3 linked regions of the Homo sapiens genome follow. The protein of the gene in region 2 interacts with the protein of the main gene of each other region in a pairwise test. Each region holds a gene or a part of one and is shown on either strand. Other genes may lie near its edges. The genes, in order: MAGI3, PLXNB3 and SPOCK2.

Region 1 (3,745 bases), on a different chromosome or scaffold from region 2:
TCTGTTTCAGAATATCTGAAAAAAAAAAAAAGGCTTTTTCTGGAAAAATGCTGCTGTAAGAAAAGATTACAACTTGTTTTTCTTTGTTTTATACTAAAGGTTACTGCCGTTTCTCAGCCATACCAATAGTGCCTGTGACTTTATTTCCACTTGGAACCTTCCAGGGCCCTGGAGTTATCAGTGTTTTCTTAACTGGAGAACTGCTTTCCGGTTTGAACCTTCCAGTCTCTTTGTTTTTGTCAGCTGCCTCTAGTTCTTTCCCTTTGTGATCTTCTGTTTTGTTTGAAACTACCTTCTCTTCAGGTTCTTGCTTCAGCCTCTTTTCTGATAGCTGGACATTTTCTCCTATTTTATCGTTACTAGAACTTGTTTCTCCTGTGGTTACTTTCTTTCCTTTTTCATTTTCAGATACTTCTTTACTTGTAGTCTTATTAGTCATTTTGGATGGAAGAGATTTCTCAACCATTCTTTTGATTTTTTTCTCTGGAGACCTTGTTCTGCTTTTTTCCAACTGATTCTGCTTTGCATCTTTCCTGATGACGTCTGATTTTTCCTTCCCATCTGGGATCTGCTCAGCATTACTGCCCGTATAGCCTGCTATTCTTCGACTCTTACCCTCTAATAATTTGGCCTCAGCATTTGATGGAGCTTTGCTTCCTTCAATTTTTTGCTGCTTTTTTGGGCTGGCCGACCGACCTCTGCTTTTTCTGCACTGATCTTGTCCAGAGCCTGCCCTGGTGCTGACCTGACAACTTTTATTTTCCCCTTTGCTGGGGCTGAGGGATTGATCTCTGGGTCTTCTTTTGGGGTTATTTTTTAGAGGACTAGGAATCTTATCCAAATGTTCCTCTGAATGTTGACTGGCTGGCTTTTTGGGACTAACCGATCTACCTCTTCGTGTAACACCATTTTCTACTTTTAATAGATTTTTCTTGTTACTGTGCCCATGACTGCTGGGTGGATCCCTCTTACTCACATTTTTCTGGAGAAGAGACTGATGCTTTATCTCAGGCTGATTTTCATTTAAAGTGCTTTTCTTTTCAGGCACAATGTCCTTTAATTCTTCTGCCTTTTCACATATCTGAACTCTCAAAGATTCTTCAATTACTGGCACGTGAGACTCTTCAAATATGGAAGCAAAATGTGAAGATGGGGGTAATGGTGACTGTTCATCATAAATCACATTTGAAGACGAAGGATTATTAATATCCCAATCACCTAAAAAAGTGATTTGAATGGAACATTATTAAATTTTAGAATTACAAATAGGAACAATACGTTTTGAACTTTGACAGCCATTTGAATTGTCGTAACTGCTTAAAAAGCCTGAGTATTTTATACAGTTTGTATATGTTTACAACATATCTCTCTATAAAGGCGGATGTGTACAGACATCTGTTCATACATGAAGGATGGGTTGTTTATATACACAAAATAATATTCATTTTTTCCAATTACATATAATTAGTGAGATAATATATGATCTGTAAATTCTCTATTAGTAAAGCCCAATTAGAACTTACAAGTTATAAAGCTGAACCAAATTACGTGGCCCAAGAAGCTCACTAATTATTATGAATTGATACAGTTTAGGATATGGCAAAATCACTAATTAATAAAGGAAACCAAACTGTGGTAACCAGAATGAGGCTCATGGGCATTTGTAATAATTCTCTTGCATTAAGCTGTCAAATTTAATGTCAAAAGAAGACTGAAAAGTGCAGAAGATAGAAATAGATGTATTTAATAGCATCATTTTTAATTTAAAAGAAAACAAAAGAAGAAAGTGATTTACAAGACATGCAAATTTACCAAGTCTTTTTAAGGAAAGACCAAGAAAAGCCCTGAAAGCCTTAATGTTGCTCGGGTTTCACGTAGGAGCACAGACCGGAAGGAGCCAAACCTGAAGAGGGAAGAGAAAAAGCCTAGGACTATGTGAAAAAAAAAAAAAAAATCAGTGCAGTTAGCAAAGATGTCACTGGGAACATATGATTTACAAGCAGATGGTGGAAGATAATACAGTCAGAGAATCATAAGCTGGAAGGGTACTGTAGGAGGTTATGTCTACACTTATCCCTCAAAAGCGGTGGGGTGGGGTGGGGTAGGGCAGGAGGTGGGGAGCTAGATGAGGCAAGTACTGCGTGGGTGTGGTACTGCCTTTATTTCTAGAATAGTGCACTCAAAAAACAGTGACTTTCAAATACCATGATATTTCAAAACATGCCATGGAAACCCAGGAAGTTTAACATTAATACAGGACAGAAATGGTCTCAGGTCCAACTCCCTGTCTCCAGGTAGGGTGATAGCAACTTGTTTTTGCCGAGTCACCAGAAAAGCCTAAGTTTTCATGCTGCGCATTCATTATAATATAAACTTATCTTGCTTTACAGAAATAAAAATATTGGTTGGTAATGTGTAATTAGCTAAGTAAGAGAAAAAGCTGGGATATTTTGAAGAGATTTAAAACATTTTTTATGGTATTTAAATTGTTTGCCTCTAATACACTTTTTTAATAGGTACATTTCTCTACAAAAACAACTATATGTTTTTTCTGATTAAATTTAAAATACATTCCATTCCAACGAAAGTCCTGCCTAAGTCACTTGTTTTCTAATACTATTTATGATAACTCTGCTATGTAACTAGCTTTTCATGGTTCTAGCATTCACCTCTGAATTAACTAGTAAAATATCTATCCTCTCCAAATATATATTCCTTTTTCTTCTGTCCCCTCCCTAATATACAACTTTTCAGCTACTAGTGGGCTACTTTACTTACCATGGTCAGGTATCAAGCCAGTTCCTGGCCTCAAAAGAAGAAGAACTTTATTTCCACCAGCCTGAATGAGCTCAATTGCTCGAGTATGTGTGATTCCTTGTGTAGGTTCCCCATTGATTTCAACAATCTGGTCACCAACCTAGACAGAGAACATTCACAGGAACAACATGAAACTATGCATCCTTTGTAAATTCTGCTTTTGTCAGCTCTTGAGCCATTCAACCTTGCTAAGTGATTCTTTCGTTTGTAAAATACCTAACGTGTACCCAGTACTGCCATGTGAGAGTTGATGAGAGGACAGATGACAACAAACAACAGGAAGTGGCAATGTTCAGGTTTACTCACAAAAATCCTACACAGGAAAGTTTTATATGGCTACTAACTAAGATCTGGACATCTTGAAATCAAGAATCAAATTCTAGAATCAGATTTGGAATTTTCTAAATTTATAGAAATCAAATTTAGAATGTTAATCAAATTCTAGAATTTGGTTCTTGATTTGAAGATGCCCAGATCTTTAATAGCCATATAAAACTTTCCTGTGTAGGATTTTTTGTTTGTTTGTTTTGTTTTGCTTTTTGAGACGGAGTCTTGCTCTGTCGCCCAGGCTGGAGTGCAGTGGCGAGACCTCGGCTCACTGCAAGCTCCGCCTCCTGGGTTCACGCCATTCTACTACCTCAGCCTCCCGAGTAGTTGGGACTACAGGCGCCCGCCACCACGCCCGGCTAATTTTTTGTATTTTTAGTAGAGATGGGGTTTCACCGTGTTAGCCAGGATGGTCTCGATCTCCTGACCTCGTGATCCGCCCGCCTCAGCCTCCTAAAGTGCTGGGATTACAGGCGTGAGCCACCGCGCCCGGCCCTGTGTAGGATTTTCATAAGTAAACCTGGGCACTTGCTGTGTAGGGTTTTTATGCGTGAGTAAACCTGGACATTGTCTCTTCCTGTTGCTGCCATCTGTCCTCTTA
Region 2 (3,745 bases):
AGCCAGCAGTGGAAGGAGGCAGGCAGGCCCTGGGGAAGGACGCTGTCAGGAGTGTGGACACGCTGTTGGCAGACCTCACTGCCCTGTCCCCTTCCCTCCTGATGGCTCACTCGGAAATGTTGAAGGTTCCGCACGCGTAGGGCCAAATGGCTCTCCCAGCCCACAGGCACCAGGTGGGGACCTGCCAGGCCTTCGACCTGTGGGCAAGCCCCTGGGCCACGCACCTGGATGTCCACCTGGGAAAACAAGAGCCCTCAGCCCTTCAGAACTCAAAGGGCCTACTGCTGGGCGGGTCTGGGAAGGGTGGAGAAGGGACAGCCCTGTCTCTGCCCGAAGTTCGGGCCCACCCACCTCCTGGGCGCTGTAGATGGTCCTCTCGCCCTCTGGGCAGTGCTCTCCGTACACGCAGTGGCTACTCTGCGGGCACCAGTGACACCGCCAGATGCTGCCCACGCAAGCGCGACACCTAGAGGGGCAGGGTGGCTGCTCAACTGAGTGCCCTCTGGGGTCGCCACCCCTACCCCAGGAGGCAGGCCCAGGGACTCACGGGGCAGCCGCCTCCAAGGCCTGGACGGCACTGCAGTCATAAAAGGAGAAGTTGGTGGCAGCCACAGTCACGTCCTCGAACATCAGGGCCAGGGGCACAGTGACGTGGTCTGGGAGGGGACAGTGGGGGCAGGACAGGTCAGGTGGCTCATTACCCCTCCAGCCTCCATCCCAGCCCCCTACCCCATGGGCCACTCACCTGTGCCTGGAGGGTTAAGTGGCACCTGGTCTTGGGGAGGGGTGACACAGGCCACGTGGGGCCCTTCCACATGAGCCAAGCTGTCATAGTCCCCGAACGCACAATGGAAGTATTCATCTGCATCCAGGATGGGCAGCCGGGGGACAGACAAAGTGACCTGGGATGCAGCGGGGAGAAACCGGGAGATGTAGCCAGAGAGAGGGGGCAGCAGAGGCCATGGGAGAGGAAGGAGGACGGGAGGCAGGCGGGGTTCATGCTCCAGGCAGTGGTCATGCTGCCCAGAGGGCCCAGTGGTGGTGGGCGGCTTACCTGGCCCTGCTCCTGGCGGGGGTGGTGGCCCGGCAGCAGGCTCTGGATGTGCAGGCAGTGGCTGTCCTCCTCATAACTCCACAGCCACTGGTTCAGCTGGCCTGCCCGCCCGCACTGGCCCTTCCGGGTACACCTGCCAGGCAGGGGTCCATCAGGTCACCGTGGGGGTCCTAGACTCCAAGGATGACCGGCAACAGGGGCCTGGGGAGGCCGGCCCAGCTGGAGTGCAGTGGGGTGCAATGAGCAGGAGGCGTGAAGGGGACTGTGTCCAGAGAGAAAGGGGCCAAGCAGGCAGGGCCTCATGGCCAAGGCGTGGGCTCCAGCCCTGAGAGGCAGGTGCGGCTGGGCTGAGGGACGCACAGTGACTCAGGGCTGCCTTAAAGGATTCCAGGGGCTGCCGTGTGGAGCACCGGCTGGAGGACAGCTGTGTGGGGTTCTGGACCCTGGCTGGGGCTGCTGGGATGAGGAGTCCACAGGCCGGGTGGTGTCGGAAAAGGGGGGTGCCAACCAGATTGACGGCTCAGTGAGATGGGGCAGGATGGGTGACCTCCGTGGTGGCCCTGAGTCTCTCCAACAGGCAGGGTTGGCCTCCCGGCACGCCTAGGGCTACTTCCAGGGGCAGCCTCGTGGCACACACCACCCGTTGGCCCTAGCCTAGGCACAGGCCCCGTGCTCACCTGCCCTGGAGGACACACCAGCCACACAGCGGGTCCTGGGCCTGGAGGCAGCTGGCACAGTCAGGGAACTGGGGGCAGGCTGCCACAGGTATCCGGTCCACCTGGAGGGGCAGCAGAGCAGAGAGGCAATGGGCACGAGACTTGGGCCGCGTGTGCTGGCCCCTTCAGCCCCAGGATGGCCCTCACCTGGTGGGCAGTCAGGACATAGAGGTGACTGCCACTGCTGTCCAGCAGCAGGTCTGGGCTGATGGCTGAGCCTGGAGGCCCCACTTGCTGGGAGTGGTAAACCTGGCCCTGGGAGCCGTGGAGAAAGACCTGAGTGGGGGGACAAGGACGAGGCTGGGCCAGATGGCCAAAGGTTGCCTGTTCCAGGGACACGCCCTCCTCCTAGTGGGGGCTCCTTTTTAGAGCCAGTTCCCCTTCCTGCCGGGCCATCGAGGGAGGACACATCACTTCCCCCACTCAGCACCCTCAGGCCTAGGACACTCTCCAGGGAACCATGACACCGGGGCAGCAGCGGCACCCTGGGTGAGGCCCCGTGTACCAGGGACAGTTCTGCCAGGTGGGAGGGCAGCTATGGGGAGACAGGAAGGTCACCAGGAGGCACCACACCCTGCCCACCTCACCCAGCCACCCCAGCCACCTTCACCGTGAGCCACCACCAGCTGGTGAAGGCCGGGCTGCAGGGGGCAGTGCTCAGCCAGCAGTCACTGTGTGGCAAAGTCCCCTGACCCAACCGTGGGATGCGGGCTAAGAGGTGGAAGTTGCTGGGGGCTTTCCTGAGCCTCCGTGGCCAGGGGCACACCCAGCCGGACAGCAAGGCCGGGCCCTCACCTTGTACAGCTGGCCCTGGGTGTCCCCCAGGAAGGCTATCATGTGCCCATCTGCCTGGAGAGCTGCCACGGCGCTGACCGGCTGCCCGAGCTTCAGCAGAGGCTGGACCTCCAGGGGCTGGCGGCCAGCAATGGGGCTGGGGGTGTGCTCGTCGCCACAGGGGTACGACTCGGGGGAATCCTACGTGGCAGGAAGTGGAGAATCAGCCCCCGGAAGAGAGCAGAGAGGCAGTCAGGGGGGGTACCCAGGCTGCCAGCGGGAGGAGAGCCAGGCACCCTGGGATGACCCCAAGGCCCAGCAATCAGGGCCGAAGGGCCAGGGCACCTGGCAAGCTCATAGCATCCAGAGGGAGAAAGGTGGAAAGAAATGGGTGGAGAGCAGGCAGGAGACCTGGAGACTCAGCTGACCCCTGGCTGAGAGGTTGGCTGGCACTTCCCATGGGCAGGCACCCCTGTCCAGTGCTGAAAGATGCCAGCCATCCACAGAGAGGGGGGATGGAAGGGCATGCCACTCACAAGGGGCAGGGTGACGCAGCGCGACGTGACGCCGTACTCCACGGTGGCTTCCTCTGCGCCGCTGGGGCCCCGGCCGCCCGCCGTGTAGCAGAGTCTCCGGGCCTGCTCCATGCTGGCACCCAGCTCCACCATGGGGAAGGCACAGAGCGCCGCCTGGGTGCCCCTTGGGCCCGCGGCAAACACCCCTAGCAAGGTGCCCGGGGCAAGGAAGGCGGCCTGGATGAGGCCCTGGCCCTGGCAGGCGAGGGGGACCTCCACGTAGGAGTACAGGTTGGTGTCCCCCAGGCAGACGCGGGCCACGTAGGAGCGGTACTCAGCCTGGGCCCGGGCCCCGCGGCGGCGGAACACGAAGTAGGCGGAGCGGGCGTCGGCAAAGGCCCCGACGTAGCTGTTGTTGTAGTCGGAGAAGTCGCCCACCACCAGGCGGCCCAGGCCCTCGCTGGAGAAGGGCTGAGACCCGGCCAGCTGGCGGATGGCCAGGGGTGGCACCCCTGCCGACAGCTTGCCCGCCAGGCCTCTGGCCACAAGCAGGAGGTCCCGGCCGGGCAAGGGCACCACCAGCCCCACCGTTGCCACTCCCGGGGTATTGGCAGCCACAAACTGCCCGTCACCAGGGTCCTCAGCCTGGTACAGCACCTCGGCCACATCCCCAAGGCGCCGTGTCT
Region 3 (3,745 bases), on a different chromosome or scaffold from region 2:
CACTCCTTCCTGGCATGAAAAACACACAGCCCAGGTTCCTTGTGGCTGAGTCCCTCCCTCTGCCCACCTTCCAGGCACCCAGGGGAGAAACGAGGGCTGAGCCCACGCCTCCTGCTCTGTGTTAATCTGGGCCTCTGACCTCACAGCTCCCTCAAGCTTTCTGCATTTTTGCCACTTCCCTCTTGCTCTGCACACCTCTTCTACCACCCTAGAGCCCTGAAGGAGGTGCCAGGTGGCCCTTCAGCACCCCTAGCCTGGTGGCCCAGCACTGTCCTCACCTGGTTTGCCATCGGCGGTGGAGGTGGCAGCCTGCTCCGTGGGGCAGGGGCAGGGGCCCTCGCATCGCACCGCCAGCTGCTTGCTGCTCAGGCACGCCTGTTGCTCCAGCTTACACTGCACATGGGGAAAGGTGGAACAGGGGACTGAGGGCTTACCCCAGGGGTCCCCACAGCTGGGGACACCCTCAAGCCTCTCATGGCAGCCACATCTGCCTCCCCCCATGGAGTGCCCATGAACAGCCTGAAGGGTCCTCTTGGTTCCTCTGCAGACTGAGGTGCACGGTGGAGAGAAGCAGGGCCCGGGAAGCAGGGCTCAGAGCTGGTCCTAGCCATGCAGGCTCCCATGAGCCTGCTCGGCCCTCTCTAAGGATTTGTCCCTCCCAGGACACCTGTCTCCCCTCCCCTGCCCCTGTCACCCCTCCCCTGCCCCTGTCGCCCTTCCCCTGTGTTAGCTGTCTGTTGCCCCCCTGGCTCTCATGGCCTGTTCCTTGGTCCCTCTGTAATCAGCCATCAGCCCTTCCCTCAATGATCTCCCCCCAGTCACCCCAGTGGACTTTTCTCAGTTCTCCTGATAGGACACAGCACCGCCTATGGAGCATCTAACAATTCCTCGGCCTTCGCTAAGAACTGCTTCTGCCACAGCTGCCTGCTAAAGCCAGGTTCTGACCAGGGCCTTTTCTCCTGGTCATATCTCTTTCTTCTCATGGGGCGGCTGCTAATGGGAAGCGGGTCATCACAGCGCTCGACAACATTATCTCACTTGGGAGGCTTGGGTTTCTCCTGCTCAGCAGAGAACAGCAAGGCGCACAGAGGCCCAGTGACTTGCCCAAGGCCATGAGCCGGGATGAAAGCCAGACTTCCTGCTGACCTCCACCTCCCTAAAGGACAGCGTGACCCCTGGACCGGACCGCACTGCAGCGTCCTGCCCAGACCTCGCCCTGGCCTTGGGTTGTGGGACACTAGCTCCTCTTCTTCTCCTCCTCCTCTCTGCCAGCTCTGCCAGCTCCCCTGCACCCCTCTCACCTCCTAAATGCAGCCTCTGCCCTGGCCTCTTGCTCATTCTCTCTCTCCTCCCTTTCTTCTCCCTGGATGACCTCATCCCCACAGCAATGTCAATCATCACCCACAGCGGGTGACTGAAATCTGCATCTCACTCCAAGAAGGCCCCTCAGCCCTGGCACCCACCCCAAGCCAGCTGTCAGTGCCCTCCCAAACCAAGCAATTCCCGACTCCTTGTTGCCAGTAAAAACATTCATTATCAGCACCTGCATTTCTATGTTACTTTTTTTTTTTTTTTTTTGGAGACAAGGTCTCACTCTGTCACCCAGGCTGGAGTGCAGTGGTACAATCATGGCTCACTACAGCCTCGAACTCCTGGCATCCCCCTCAGCCTCTCAGATAGCTGGAATCACAGGCACACGCCACTGCACCCAGCTAATTTTTGTATTTTTTGTAGAGACAGGGTCTCACTATGTTACCCAGGCTGGTCTCAAACTCCCGGATTCAAGCAATCCACCCGTCTCGGCCTCTCAAAGTGCTGGGATTGCAGGCGTGAGCCACCGTGACCAGCCTAAAATTTTTTAAATGCTTTCTCAAATATTGTCTCCTGAAATCCTCATAAAAATCCACATAAGGTGCAAATTCATTCTCCCAATCGGTTCCTTCTTCCATCACCTTCTTATGGAGGATTATTTCCTGCTGCCCCAGAAGGCCCCTGCTCACTGGTGAACACTGGCGCCTCCCTGTGGAAATCCTCCTTTCTTCCCCCACTAACAATTGGATGCCAGAGCTCCTTCTTCCACAGCCCTCCACACTTGGCTGAGGTCTTCCCTCAGTTCCTTTGACTTGCAGTTACCTGACCATAGTGTCTCTTCCAGGCCCCACTCCCCACCTGCACCTGTCCGAGGTCAGGGACAGACAGGGTCTGGCTCCAACTCTCAGGTAGTTCCAGCCAGGGCTGCAGGTGGCCCCAGTATGGCTGGCTGCATTGAACACACTGACCTTGCCATCTGGCCCCACCTCAGTCCTGGAAACCCCTCCGGAGGCCCCAGCTGGGTCATCCTTTCTGCTTCCTGTGGCCTCAGGTGACTCCACCCCCACCCTACCTGGGGCCTGGGCTCCTCACCACAGAGCTGTAAGTGTGGCCATCTGAGCCGCAGACAGAGGCAAGCTGGGCCATGTGGCAGGGCTTGCAGATGGAGTCTTTGTTTCCATGGAGTTTCACGGTCGGCTGCTTGATCCTACAGGAGAGGGTGGGGGGCACACCAGGGTGGAAGTGACAATGAGGAAGGAGCAGGGGAAGGGAGGGCTGAGCAGACCTGTTCCAACAGGAAGGCAGCAGCAATCTTCAGCAGATCAGCCCCTTCCTGCCCCTGCCCACCCTCCCCACACTGCTGCCAGACCCTCCTCCAGCTCAGAAGGGTGGAACCAACTGAGCAGGGCATAAATTCCCCCAGCTTCTCTTCTTCTAGGAGTCACTGAGTCCCATGGGGCCTTCAGGTAGCAACTCCAGGTCTGAAGGCCAGAGGTAAAAGGGGGTCACACTTCACTTAGGGGGTCAGACCAAATCTGAGGTTGCAAACTGATGACCTCTGGGCCATACTTGGCCACCAAGTGTTTTTTTTTTTAATTGAGTTATTTATGCACTAACATTTACCAAATGGGAGAGTTCACATAAATACCTGGATTCTTGGCCTGTCTTTGAAAAATGGAAGCATGGGAGTCCTGGACCTGCATTCCTACATAGCTGTAATAGACCAGGGCCAAGAAGCAGCTGCCTGCTTTCCACCACACCTGTGCTCCACAGAGTGGCCCGTGACCAAGCACTCTTCATGCATTACATTACCGGCCATGCCCCTGCAGCCTTCTAAGACTGCAACCCCATCTTTCATCTTCTATGATTCAGGAAAGAAGGGAGGGAACTGGAACCTTTTCCAGGGTCTTGGAGCCAGGCAGAGCCTTGTCCTTGGGCTGGAGCTAAGACTTCCTTTTTTTGTTTGTTTTGTTGTGTTTTTTTTTTTTGAGACGGAGTCTCACTCTGTCACCCAGGCTGGAGTGCAGTGGCGTGATCTCGGCTCACTGCAACCTCCGCCTCCCAGGTTCAAGCAATTCTCCTGTCTCAGCCACACGAGTATCTGGGACTACAGGCACAAGCGACCATGCCCAGCTAATTTTGTATTTTCAGTAGAGATGGGGTTTCACCACATTGGTCAGGCTGGTCTCAAACTCCTGACCTTAGGTGATCCACCCGCCTTGGCTTCCCAAAGTGCTGGGATTACAGGCAGGAGCCACTGCACCCAGCTGGAGCTAAGGCTTCCTTAAATGTCCCTCACTCCTTTCTCCTCTGCAAGCTACAACCTCTCACAAGCTACCACCTTAAATATTTCATGAAGTCACTGCATGTCAGAGCTGAAAGGAACCTCAAATTATATGGTCTAACCTATTTGTCTTAGAGATACTACATCAAG

Evidence for each region.
Region 1: the proteins of PLXNB3 (region 2) and MAGI3 interact in a two-hybrid assay, tested with the Homo sapiens proteins (one study listed by BioGRID and IntAct).
Region 3: the proteins of PLXNB3 (region 2) and SPOCK2 interact in a two-hybrid assay, tested with the Homo sapiens proteins (one study listed by BioGRID and IntAct).

Annotation. Positions count from the first base shown.
Region 1 is NC_000001.11:113,680,370-113,684,114, reverse strand, and holds part of MAGI3 (membrane-associated guanylate kinase, WW and PDZ domain-containing protein 3), read right to left. Parts: intron 2,918-3,745; coding exon 2,779-2,917; intron 1,932-2,778; coding exon of another isoform or gene 1,822-1,931; exon of another isoform or gene 1,219-1,821; coding exon 101-1,218; 3' UTR 1-100.
Region 2 is NC_000023.11:153,767,249-153,770,993, reverse strand, and holds part of PLXNB3 (plexin-B3 isoform 1 precursor), read right to left. Parts: coding exon 3,081-3,745; intron 2,746-3,080; coding exon 2,566-2,745; intron 2,047-2,565; coding exon 1,918-2,046; intron 1,833-1,917; coding exon 1,732-1,832; intron 1,188-1,731; coding exon 1,055-1,187; intron 903-1,054; coding exon 746-902; intron 657-745; coding exon 548-656; intron 467-547; coding exon 352-466; intron 237-351; coding exon 111-236; intron 30-110; coding exon 1-29. UniProt on the Homo sapiens protein: Receptor for SEMA5A that plays a role in axon guidance, invasive growth and cell migration. Stimulates neurite outgrowth and mediates Ca(2+)/Mg(2+)-dependent cell aggregation.
Region 3 is NC_000010.11:72,067,909-72,071,653, forward strand, and holds part of SPOCK2 (testican-2 isoform 2 precursor), read right to left. Parts: intron 2,519-3,745; coding exon 2,404-2,518; intron 394-2,403; coding exon 279-393; intron 1-278. UniProt on the Homo sapiens protein: May participate in diverse steps of neurogenesis. Binds calcium.